Homo sapiens: one gene and its partners. The protein of the gene in region 1 purifies or fractionates together with the protein of each later gene. This does not show direct contact. Each region holds a gene or a part of one and is shown on either strand. Other genes may lie near its edges.

What was found.
Region 2: the proteins of SLC2A1 (region 1) and ATP11C purify together in Homo sapiens (affinity purification with mass spectrometry; 2 studies listed by BioGRID and IntAct, with this or other methods). This does not show direct contact.
Region 3: the proteins of SLC2A1 (region 1) and ATP6AP1 purify together in Homo sapiens (affinity purification with mass spectrometry; 2 studies listed by BioGRID and IntAct, with this or other methods). This does not show direct contact.

Annotation. Positions count from the first base shown.
Region 1 is NC_000001.11:42,956,872-42,960,619, reverse strand, and holds the start of SLC2A1 (solute carrier family 2, facilitated glucose transporter member 1), read left to right. Parts: upstream 1-1,751; 5' UTR 1,752-1,968; coding exon 1,969-1,986; intron 1,987-3,748. UniProt on the Homo sapiens protein: Facilitative glucose transporter, which is responsible for constitutive or basal glucose uptake. Has a very broad substrate specificity; can transport a wide range of aldoses including both pentoses and hexoses.
Region 2 is NC_000023.11:139,800,385-139,804,132, forward strand, and holds part of ATP11C (phospholipid-transporting ATPase IG), read right to left. Parts: intron 1,956-3,748; coding exon 1,852-1,955; intron 1-1,851. UniProt on the Homo sapiens protein: Catalytic component of a P4-ATPase flippase complex which catalyzes the hydrolysis of ATP coupled to the transport of aminophospholipids, phosphatidylserines (PS) and phosphatidylethanolamines (PE), from the outer to the inner leaflet of the plasma membrane.
Region 3 is NC_000023.11:154,426,865-154,430,612, forward strand, and holds the start of ATP6AP1 (V-type proton ATPase subunit S1 precursor), read left to right. Parts: upstream 1-1,812; 5' UTR 1,813-1,828; coding exon 1,829-1,989; intron 1,990-2,183; coding exon 2,184-2,310; intron 2,311-3,748. UniProt on the Homo sapiens protein: Accessory subunit of the proton-transporting vacuolar (V)-ATPase protein pump, which is required for luminal acidification of secretory vesicles.

The DNA of each region.
Region 1 (3,748 bases):
TAGAGAGACCACAGGAATTGAAGCCTTGGGCAGGGGGGTGCCCAGAATGCACCTGCCTTCTGTTTCAGGGCTCCATACTCAACCAAGGTGCCCCTCAGCCAGAACTGGACACATTGCCAGAGAACTCCAGGGGTCATCTGGTCGGCTCAGCCTCCCGGTTTCCGACAGACAGTAAGCCCACCATGACTCCCTCCATCGGGAAAGGGACCCTCAAGACTTTGATCAGACCTTTGGACTGGGGGTCCTTCCCTTCACTGTGTCTCAAGTAAGGCACTGGTCTAGAGGAAATAAGGTGAAGTCAGATGATAGCAATACCACTACCAGTGCAGTGGCACATGCCTGCACTCCCAGCTACTACGGAGGCTAAGGTGGGAGGATCACTTGAGCCCAGGAGTTTGAGACCAGCATTTATTTATTTACTAACAGACTAAATAAATAAACCAACAATACCACCAACCAGTAAATGAGAACTTCCATGCTAAACACTTCATGAGCTTATCTGGAAATTGCACCTCTCCTGATAGCAATGAGATTGGTGTGGGAATTCCATTTACTCATAAGAAGACAGCCTCGGCCGGGCTCAGTGGCTCACGCCTGTAATCCCAGTACTTTGGGAGGCGAGGTGGGTGGATCACGAGGTCAAGAGTTCAAGACCAGCCTGGCCAAAATGGTGAAACCCCGTCTCTACTAAAAATAAAAATAATTAGCCAGGGGTGATAGCGGGCGCCTGTAATCCCAGCTACTCGGGAGGCTGAGGCAGAGAACTGCTTGAATCCGGGAGGCGGAGGTTACAGTGAGCCGAGATCGTGCCGCTGCACTCCAGCCTGGGCGACAGAGCGAGACTCTGTCTGAGAAAAAAAAAAATTAAAGAAAAAAACGAAAACAGCCTCACTGGCCAGGAACTCGCCCAGGATCGCGGCCGGGCCAGTATACAGTTGAGCTGGTTCAAACCCGAGGTCTATCATGTCCTTAATGTCCTATCATGTCAGTCAGTTAGCCTGCCTTTCATATTTTCCACACTTACAGGTCACCATAGACTCACCTGAACTGTGAGAAGTAGAGGAAGGCGTCCCAGAGGAGGTGATTTTAAAGCCCAGGTTTGAGATGGGTATGCATTTCCAGGCAAGAGAGCCCGGCCGGTGCAAAAGCAAGGCTTGGCTCACAAACGGGAATGTGGGGGGTGGAGACAGGGAAGGGAGAAGTCAATCCCTGGGCAAGACCTCCTGGAGTCTCTCTAACAAATAAATACTACTTTCCATGCAGTAGACGCTGTTCTAAACACTTTACAAATATTAACTCACTTGGTCTTTCTACAACCCTACGAGGTGGTACTGTTACTATCCCTAGTGCACCGAAGTCACCCAGCGGCCGAGTGAGAACTCCAGTCCAGCTTTCCACCCGCTACTCCGCGCATCCCAGCTTGCCTTACAGCCGGGTACCGGCTCCACCATTTTGCTAGAGAAGGCCGCGGAGGCTCAGAGAGGTGCGCACACTTGCCCTGAGTCACACAGCGAATGCCCTCCGCGGTCCCAACGCAGAGAGAACGAGCCGATCGGCAGCCTGAGCGAGGCAGTGGTTAGGGGGGGCCCCGGCCCCGGCCACTCCCCTCACCCCCTCCCCGCAGAGCGCCGCCCAGGACAGGCTGGGCCCCAGGCCCCGCCCCGAGGTCCTGCCCACACACCCCTGACACACCGGCGTCGCCAGCCAATGGCCGGGGTCCTATAAACGCTACGGTCCGCGCGCTCTCTGGCAAGAGGCAAGAGGTAGCAACAGCGAGCGTGCCGGTCGCTAGTCGCGGGTCCCCGAGTGAGCACGCCAGGGAGCAGGAGACCAAACGACGGGGGTCGGAGTCAGAGTCGCAGTGGGAGTCCCCGGACCGGAGCACGAGCCTGAGCGGGAGAGCGCCGCTCGCACGCCCGTCGCCACCCGCGTACCCGGCGCAGCCAGAGCCACCAGCGCAGCGCTGCCATGGAGCCCAGCAGCAAGGTGAGTCGCGCGCCCGCGGGCCCTCCCGCCAGGAACAAAGGCGCAGACTCCTGCCCGCCTTACGCCGGCCAGGGCCTCCCCCGCCGCCCCGCTGCGCTGTGCGCCCGGGGCGGGCCGCGCGCCTCTCCGAGCCTGGCTCGGTGCGGGTCCCGAGCGCAGCGCCCCGCCGGGCCGCTGGCCGCAGTGGGGATGGGCTTCGGATCTAGCGGGCCGGAGGGCGCCGCGTGCGTAGTTGGCGCCGGCACTGAGCACATGGCCTCCTTCCGGGGGCGCCGCGCCGTCCACGCGGCCCTGCTGGGGCTGGGGACACAGGGCCCGGGAGCGGCACGTCGCACACGACCTCGGCAGCAGCAGCCCAGCCTCGGCCCCTCCCGGTGCGGGGGAGGGGGCCCGAGCGCGGCGCCCATTGGCTGAGCGGGCCGAGCCCCCGGCCCGGCCCCGGCCCCGGCGCGCGGAGGAGTCAGGAGCCGCCCCCGCTCTCCGTCTGCTCCCCTAGCCCGGACGCCCCTGTAGGTGGGCGGCCTGGTGCGAGGTGTCCCACCGGCCTCCCCTACTCCTCCCGCCAGTCCCCCGCGGTGACGAGGCCGAGGCCGAGGGGAGGGCACTTTTCTCCAGGCCCGGGCTCGAACGCGGGGGTTGAGATGAACCTCCGGTCTCGGAGGCTCTCCTTTGCGAGGAGTGCAGGCCCCAAAGCTTTGGCCCAGTCTCGCGGAGATGTGTTCCGCGGAGGCAGGTTTACCCTCGGGGCCAGGCGGGGAGCGCAACCGGAGGGGCGGGGGATCTGGGGGCCAGGAAAGAGCCCCAGGCTGAAGTCTAGCGGGAAGCGCGCACGCCACGGGGTTGGGGAATGAGGGATGGGGACTCTGGGGACCAACAACTCCCTAGATAGGATTTCTTTTTTTCTGTGTAAGTGGGCTTGTCCTGCAGGGCATCTTTGTAGCGTCCGCAGAGCGATTTCTTTTCAACAAATTGTTTGTGGAGCCCCTCCTGTGTGTAGGGCATTGTTTCTTTCCACCTCCTTTCCTCCCCCTAGTCTACAATATTTTCAAGTCCCCTTTTTCTTTTGAAACGGTCCCTCTTTATCTATTATACTTTGATTTTTCCATCTCGTCAGCTGGGAGGGCACCTGGATGGCCCTTGTTTTCTTAGCTGGGACGCGGGGGTAGCACTGAATTTTGAACTGCCCTTCCTACTGGCTGTGGAGGTGTCCCGCTGAGACTGAGCGGGGTGGCGCTGGGCCGCACCCTCGGCAGGAAAAGGCCTTCCGCCCCACACCTGTTGAATCCATAAATCCAGACGACTTGGTTCACCCTTCCTGGGCCCTCGCTTGAGGTGAGACCCCGGGGAAGTTCCCGGGGAAGGCTCCCAGGATCTTAGGTGAGCCGTAAGGGTGGGATATAACTAAACAAAAGTTCAGTGAGAAGCTCTTCTAGCTAGTGGCAAGGAAGTCCAAATATCTCAGGGCTCTTGCAGGCCACTTAACTTCTGGGCCTCAGTTTTTCCATCTGAAAGAGATCACTTTTGTCACTTCCTCTAGGGAAGGAACTATCTATTCAGCATACTATGCCAGACATGGGTATTTATTTGTTGAGTGGATAAGGGAATACTACGTGGAGACAGAAAAGTGGAGGAGAAAATCAGCAGGTTCTTAGCCAAACTACTTTAAGCGTCACGGACCTTATAGCCCTGCTGGTTACTCACTAGCCTGGAGCTCAGAGAAGGGAAATAAGTTTGCCAAAGTCACACAGCTAGTAAGTGGTTG
Region 2 (3,748 bases), on another chromosome or scaffold:
CATGCACACAACACCTCTCTCTTTTATAAGTTTATATAAATAACGTAACTTCTATCTTGGATCATGTGAAGAAAGGTTTCTGGTGCTAAAATACAATTTTCAAAACCGCTAGTTCAGTAGTTCTTACACTTGAGTGTGCATCAGAATCACTGGAGCGCTAATTAAACCACAGATTTCTAGGTCCCATCCCTGAGCTTCTGATTCAGGTTCCCCAGTAATGCTGCTGCTGCTGGTCCTGAAACCACTCTTTAAACCATAGTACTAGTCTTAGACAGTGAACACTTGAATGCCATCTTGGAAATGTCCAGCCTGTGACTTGTAGTTGATCTCAATACTGAGCTTGACCCAATCACTTAATATAATAGGTGTATGGTAACCTGTATTTCTGCAAAATAAGGTAAAAATACCTAATCCCTCGTTAACATCAGTGTTTTATAATCTGCATCGTAAACAGCATTTTCCCCAGAAAATAGAAATATATATTACTCATATACACAAAATATGAAGGCTTGCTCATTCATTCATCATATATTAATTGTGCCAGTGCTATACTAAGTGCTGAAGATGTACTAATAAGCAAAAAAGAAATGGCTCCTTGCCCTATAAAAGTAAATAGGCAATTACGACGCAAGTGCTTACCACTAGAGTGATAGAAGTACAAGGTATTCCGAAGTCACACAGCAAGGAATTCAATCGTCTAAGGAAATAAGGAATAACCTTCCCTGTCCTATCATTCTCCTTCATACTTAAAGCAACTGAAAAATGTGGGGATTTCCCTATAAATATGCAAGGGTATAGATATTGTTCTCTAGCTCAGGCAGAATAAGTTACTCCCTTTTCTGTGATTCCATAGACCTTACACTCACCTCTATTATCACCTTGTATAAGCTTAGCTTTATTACTTCATCTCTTGCTCACAGTGAGTCCCTTGAAGGTAGAGAATAACTGTTACACTTTTTGGCCCTAGTTCCTATCATCAAGGTGGATACGGAAGAGGAAGGGAAAGAGGAAAGAAAAAGTGATGAGAAGGAGGGAGGTCATTGTTCTTGAAGTAGAATGAATACTTTGTTTTTCCACTACTAGGTGTTAGTGTAAACCACATCCAACCACTTGGTCACTCATTATGACTAACAGCATGCATTAACAAGATGGGTAATGGATGCCATCTGCAACGGTAGAATAGGATAAAATTAATTAGCCCACGTGGGGATAAAACCTGTTACACTACCCTGATTAGTACTATGCTCTAATCAACCCAACTAACCAGTCTTGAAATCAAACGCCAATTTTTGACAACCCACAATGACTAATAATCAGCAAACCTACTCCAGAGAGCCTAAGTATAGTAAAATAGAGGAAATTACACCATTGTACTCATCCCTTAACTGTTTACTGTGGACAAGAAAGAGCCTATTTGCAATCTTTAGTGCATCATGATCATTCTAAGAAAGGATAGAACCTACTAATTGCATGAAGAGGATATCCCCCTTCTCTCTTTAATGTTAGATGGCATGTAAAAGGATTTGTTTTTTATTTAATTAACTGGTTACTGCATCAGTCTGATAGATCAGCCTTACAGGGTAACATAATCTAAAATTTTGATATATGGCCATGTTTACAAGTAATAAAAATAAAAGAAAAATCATAAGATACCTGGGCCCACAATGATTTATTCTGGGTTGATAGTGAACAAGGCTGATTTGATTCATTTTTCTGCCAGAAGGAAGGAATCGCCCATAAAAACACAAATGAGAGTAGGCTGGTAAGTGGTGGGTGTTTCTTTTGCAATACTATTAGCAAAGAGAAGCAGAGCCAACAAACAGAAGTAAAATGAAACCAGGTGATTCTTACTTGTAGAGGTCAGGTTGAGGCTGTTCACATTCAATTGCTGCTCGGAGGGTATCGATGGATTCTGCTGTACACAGTGCAATGGTATCACGTACTGCATAATGTGTCTAGTTGAAAGCAGAAGAAAAAGTGAAAACCAAAAAAACTTTCTTTTCATAATCATACACCCAACTGATTTCAGAAACAAATTTAGTTTATGTTTTAGTAAGAGGCTTTGGCAGAATAAACAAATATTAACATTTCCCACTAATAAGTTTTATGGTATTATTATGAAAATATATTACAAATAATTAGAAAGATAACCTGCCGCAAGGAGGGTTTCAAAGACAATTAAAAACCTAAAAGCTCTTCTTGACATGGACAGCTGAGAGAATTCTATTCACAACATGCATATAATTAACTAAAACCACGTGAAAAAGTTAATACATTTATTTTTTTTCCTATTTACAGAACTGAGACTTATTATTTTGCTCACTATAGTGTATGGCAATGGAGATATACACATATGAATTGAACATAACCTTTTTGGTCACAAAAATGCTAAAATTTTGCCAACAGCAAGAAAAAAATCATTAATAGTTCCATTACACAAATAGCTTAATTAATGATCTTGAAAATGTTCAATATGGATACATTTTGTACAAGGGGCAGGGAGATGACGTGTCTTGCATTAGTCAGATAATTAGAATATTCTACTAGTGTATATTATGCACTTGATTCATCCAGAACTCAAGGCAGGCGCCAATGAACCCACTTATAAATCATCAAACAAGGGTTAAAGCAGACTCAAAGAGCGCACCACTTAGGCAGAAGGGAAAGCTGTTGTCGTCATCTTGGGGGAAATATTACGGCAATGTCTGAACTATATTTAAAACTATCTCCTGATTTTGAAAACCTCTGTACTTTTAGCTGATTTGATCAGAACAACTTAACTGAAAAAAGAAACTATCTGAAAGTTTTCTTACTCCAAACAACTTTTTCACTATCAGGAAATCTTTATGTAGATTTCTTGATTTATATCTTGACATTCCCTAAATTATAACTTTGTTTTTGAAAAGGTTAAAAGCAGGTCATTACCATGCTTTTGAAATACAGAATTAGTCATCCAACAGGTAAAGGTTCTTTTTTACATACTGAGTCGTAGTCCTCAACTCCAGATGGAATAAACAAACAGAGGAGCCCTCCAAGGACATACCCAGAGGTGAGCCACATGAGTAACCCTCCTTAAAGGCAGCATAGAGAGGATACATCTTCATGCCCTGTGGAGCTCTGGACCATGGCCAAGAAAACCGACTGTGCCAGAAAGTGTATGAGGGAAATAAGTTACCCCCATTTGGCCAAATTTACTTTAAGTCACTTGCAATTATAAATGAGTTATAATTTGTTATATGTACATAAAATGTTGCTTTATAACTTACTTATAAAGCAAACATTTTCCAAACTACACCCTATCTTTTTTTTTTTTTTTTTTTTTTTTTTTTTTTGAGATGGAGACTCACCCTGTCACCTAGGCTGGAGTGCAGTGGCGTGATCTTGGCTCACTGCAACCTCCATCTCCCGGGCTCAAGCAATTCTATTGCCTCAGCCTCCCGAGTAGCTGGAATTACAGGCGCCCACCACTATGCCCGGCTAATTTTTTTGTATTTTTAGTAGAGACAGGGTTTCACCATGTTGGCCAGGCTGGTTTCGAACTGCTGAACTCAAATGATCCGTCTACCTCAGCCTCCCAAAGTGCTAGGATTACAGGCGTGAGCCACCGCACCCAGCCCTAAGTATTATTTTTAAATAGCAATCAAATTACTCCAGGTTGGGTTTCCTACATCCCAAGAATATACATTTTTAATGAAAATATACATTTTAGAAAAAAATAGATCAAATTGTAAGGTTAGCATACATGAAG
Region 3 (3,748 bases), on another chromosome or scaffold:
GCCACCACGCCCAGCCAGGATTTCAATGAACAAAATGCTTTTACCCTAAAGATGAAGTCCCCAGACAGAAGGTGCTCATTGGTGCTGTCAACATTTGGTGATTGGTTCAGTTTAGATATCACCTCCTGGTGGGAGCAGCTTCATCGGTGCCCCTCTCCTTACATCCCTCCCAGTCCCATGTCTCAACCTTTGGAATATTCATGACCCTGTATCATGACCTGCTGTCCTGCATGTCCTCTAGACCAAACTGTCAACTTCCGGGGCAGAGTCCAGGTGCCTGGCCCATAGCAGGTGCTTCAGGAAGCCTCCAGGGCCATCACTCCAGGGACCCCTAGCAATGCAGGGAAGAATAAAAGCAGCCACAGGTGGGTTTCTTCCCTAAGCATGGAAGCAGCTCAGCAACAGAGTCCTGGCGGAGGCAAGATTGCCTTCCGCATTCCAGAGGAAGTATTTGCCTTGAAACTATGTAACAAAAGTAACAGAAACATAATAGACATGCTTTCCTTTTTAAGTTTGCTGGATTCTCCTGGGATACAGTGAAGCTCCAGTGAAAACCTCTCTCCTCAGCTAGTTAAGGCCTGGAAATGGCCACTTGGGGGTTTCCCTAAGCACCCGAAACTCAGTGAGCCCCCAAGTGACCTCGTCTCCCAGTCCCCAACTCAGAGAGACCCAAAAGCTACAATCTTCTTTGACTGTATTGTCAGACCCACTTCCTCTCTCCAGCTCAACTGCCACTATCCTAGTCCTAGTCTGAATCACATGTGACAATCATGACTACAATCTTTTTTTTTTTTTTTTTTTGAGATGGACTCTCACTCTGTCGCCCAGGATGGAGTGCAGTGGCGCGATCTCGGCCCACTGCAACCTCCGCCTCGCGGGTTCAAGTGATTCTCCTGCCTCAGCCTCCCGTGTAACTGGGACTACAGGTGTGCACCACCATGCCCAGCTAATTTTTGTATTTTCAGTAGAGATGGGGTTTCACCATGTTGTGCAGGATGGTCTCGATCTCTTGACCTCATGATTCGCCCGCCTCGGGCTCCCAAAGTGCTGGGATTACAGGCGTGAGCCACAGCGCCCGGCCCGTTAGGGTGTCTTTGATGCCACGCTTCGCTCTGGGTTTTCTCCTTCCTCTTTGATTGCTCCTTGTCCGATCTCTTTTCTGGACCCTTCTCCTCCTGCCCAATGTAAGTGCTGGGTGTTCCCCTAGATGCTATCCTGAGCCCGCTTCACTCCTCGTTCTAAGGGATTACAGTCTCCTCTCACCTGTATCAGGGAGGGTCCATCTGCAGGAAAAAGACACCACTTTTGCAATTTTAAGGAAAAGGATTAAAACAGGGATTGGCCGGGTGCGGCGATGCGCGCCTGTAGTCCCACTTTTCCGGAGGCTGAGGCGGGAGGATCGCTTGAGCCCGGGGACTCGAGACCAGCCTGGCCAACATAGCTAGACCCCGTCTCTAAAGAAAAAAAAAAGACAAAAGAAGAGAACAACAACAAAAAAACCAAAATAAAAATAAAAATAAAAACGGACGGGCGAACGCGTCGGGTGGGCGTAGGGTTCCGCGAAGCCTCCCTGTCCCTCTTGTCTCGTCCTAGTCGGTCTAGCTGGGCCCCATCCCCTTTCCCACTCGGAGCGTGAGCGCCTGGAGACACGTACAGCCAACCAGTGAGAAGGAGTGGCCGCGAGTGGCATGCACTTGGTCCAATTACCTGCGGCCCTGCCGGTCGGCCCGCGCTGGGGCCAATGGAGGTGCGAGGCGGGGCTCGGGCGGGGGCAACGGTCACCTGATCTGCGGCTGTCGAGGCCGCTGAGGCAGTGGAGGCTGAGGCTATGATGGCGGCCATGGCGACGGCTCGAGTGCGGATGGGGCCGCGGTGCGCCCAGGCGCTCTGGCGCATGCCGTGGCTGCCGGTGTTTTTGTCGTTGGCGGCGGCGGCGGCGGCGGCAGCGGCGGAGCAGCAGGTCCCGCTGGTGCTGTGGTCGAGTGACCGGTGAGCGGGCCGGGGTGGGATGCGCTGTGGCGGCTGAGGCGCCCTCGCCCGACTCCGGCGCTGTCCTAGGCGAGGGGTGGTGAGGCCCGGAGGTGGACTGTTCCTTGCTCGGGGGCTCGCAGCGAATCTGCCGGCGACAGAGCTCCAGTCCACATGCGCCCCCGTCTGACAGCACCTCTTCTGTGCCCTGCCAGGGACTTGTGGGCTCCTGCGGCCGACACTCATGAAGGCCACATCACCAGCGACTTGCAGCTCTCTACCTACTTAGATCCCGCCCTGGAGCTGGGTCCCAGGAATGTGCTGCTGTTCCTGCAGGACAAGGTGCGCCCGCCCCAGCCCACTCTCCCCCGGTCATCGGGAGGCAGCCAGGCCCCCTCCCCCCATGACACTGACGCCCATTCCCCAAGGGAAGCTTCAGTGACCTTGTCCCAACTGTAGGGAGGTGTGGGTCGTCTCATGGGAAGGCCTGTAGTAAACGCTTCAGTGGGCATGGCGACAGCCTCGGAAATGGCACCAACTTGATTGGAGGAAGCGACGGACCAGAGGCCAGGTACCTACTGAGTACCAAGCACTTTGGATATCTGACTTAGTCCAATATGGTGGGTGGGGATTATCGTCCCTGTTTGTTTATAGATGAGAAGACTGAGGCTGGAGGTTAAGTGACTTGTCCAAGCTCATACAGCTAATGGGTGGCAGAGTTGTAATTCTAGCTGTGATGATCATAATAATGATAATTGGAAAATGCTCACCTGTTTAGTGCTTTGTAGGCACTTGCTACACTGATGTCATTATCTTGGTTTCACTGCCAAGGAAAGTAAGGTTTGTCGAGATACAATGTTTCACTACAGTTGATAGATACCACTTTGGTTCCAGCCTGAGTCTGCCAATCCTCCCTCCCAATTGGAGCTCATAACCCGCATGCTGTTTTCCTTCCCATCCAGGATCTTTGCCCCAAAAGCAGGCGTGGAGACCATGAGATGACTCTAAGATAGCAAGTCTCTGCTAGGCCCTCCCTTGTTGGTGGCCTGTATGGCTCATTGCCCTTGTAGTCTCCCTTGGTTGCTGTGTGGGCAGATGGTGGTGGCCTGAAGTCTTTTCAGGAGGTGGTAAATAATATAGTCAAATAGGAACTGAGTCCTAGTTCTACCATGTAACCAGCCATTGGAGGCATGAAATAATCTTTGTGAATGACAGTTTCTACATCTGTAAAATGAAGACACCACCTATATCAGAGGGCTGTGAGTGGGAAATCTTTTTTTTTTTTTTTTTTGAGACGGAGTCTCGCTCTGTTGCCCAGGCTGGAATGCAGTGGTGCAATGTCAGCTCAGCTCACTGCACCCTCCGCCTCCCGGGTTCAAGCAGTTCTCTGCCTCAGCCTCCCGAGTAGCTAGGATTACAGGGCGCCCGCCACTACACCCAGCTAATTTTTGTATTTTTTTGTATTTTTAGTAGAGATGGGGTTTCACCATGTTGGCCAGGCTGGTCTTGAACTCCTGACCTCGTGATCCACCCACCTCAGCCTCCCAAACTGCTGGGATTACAGGCGTGAGCCACCGCGCCCGGCCTGTGAGGGGGAATTCTTATAATCCACATAAAACATCTAGCCAGGATCCCCCAGTCTTAGGGCATTCACCCATTCATTCATTTGCCCAATATGGAAAGCCTACTATGTGCCAGGTATTGTGAAGTGTTGGGGATATGGCAGTGAGCAGAAGAACCCAAGCCCCCACCCTCAGGAAGCTGACATTCTTGTGAGGGT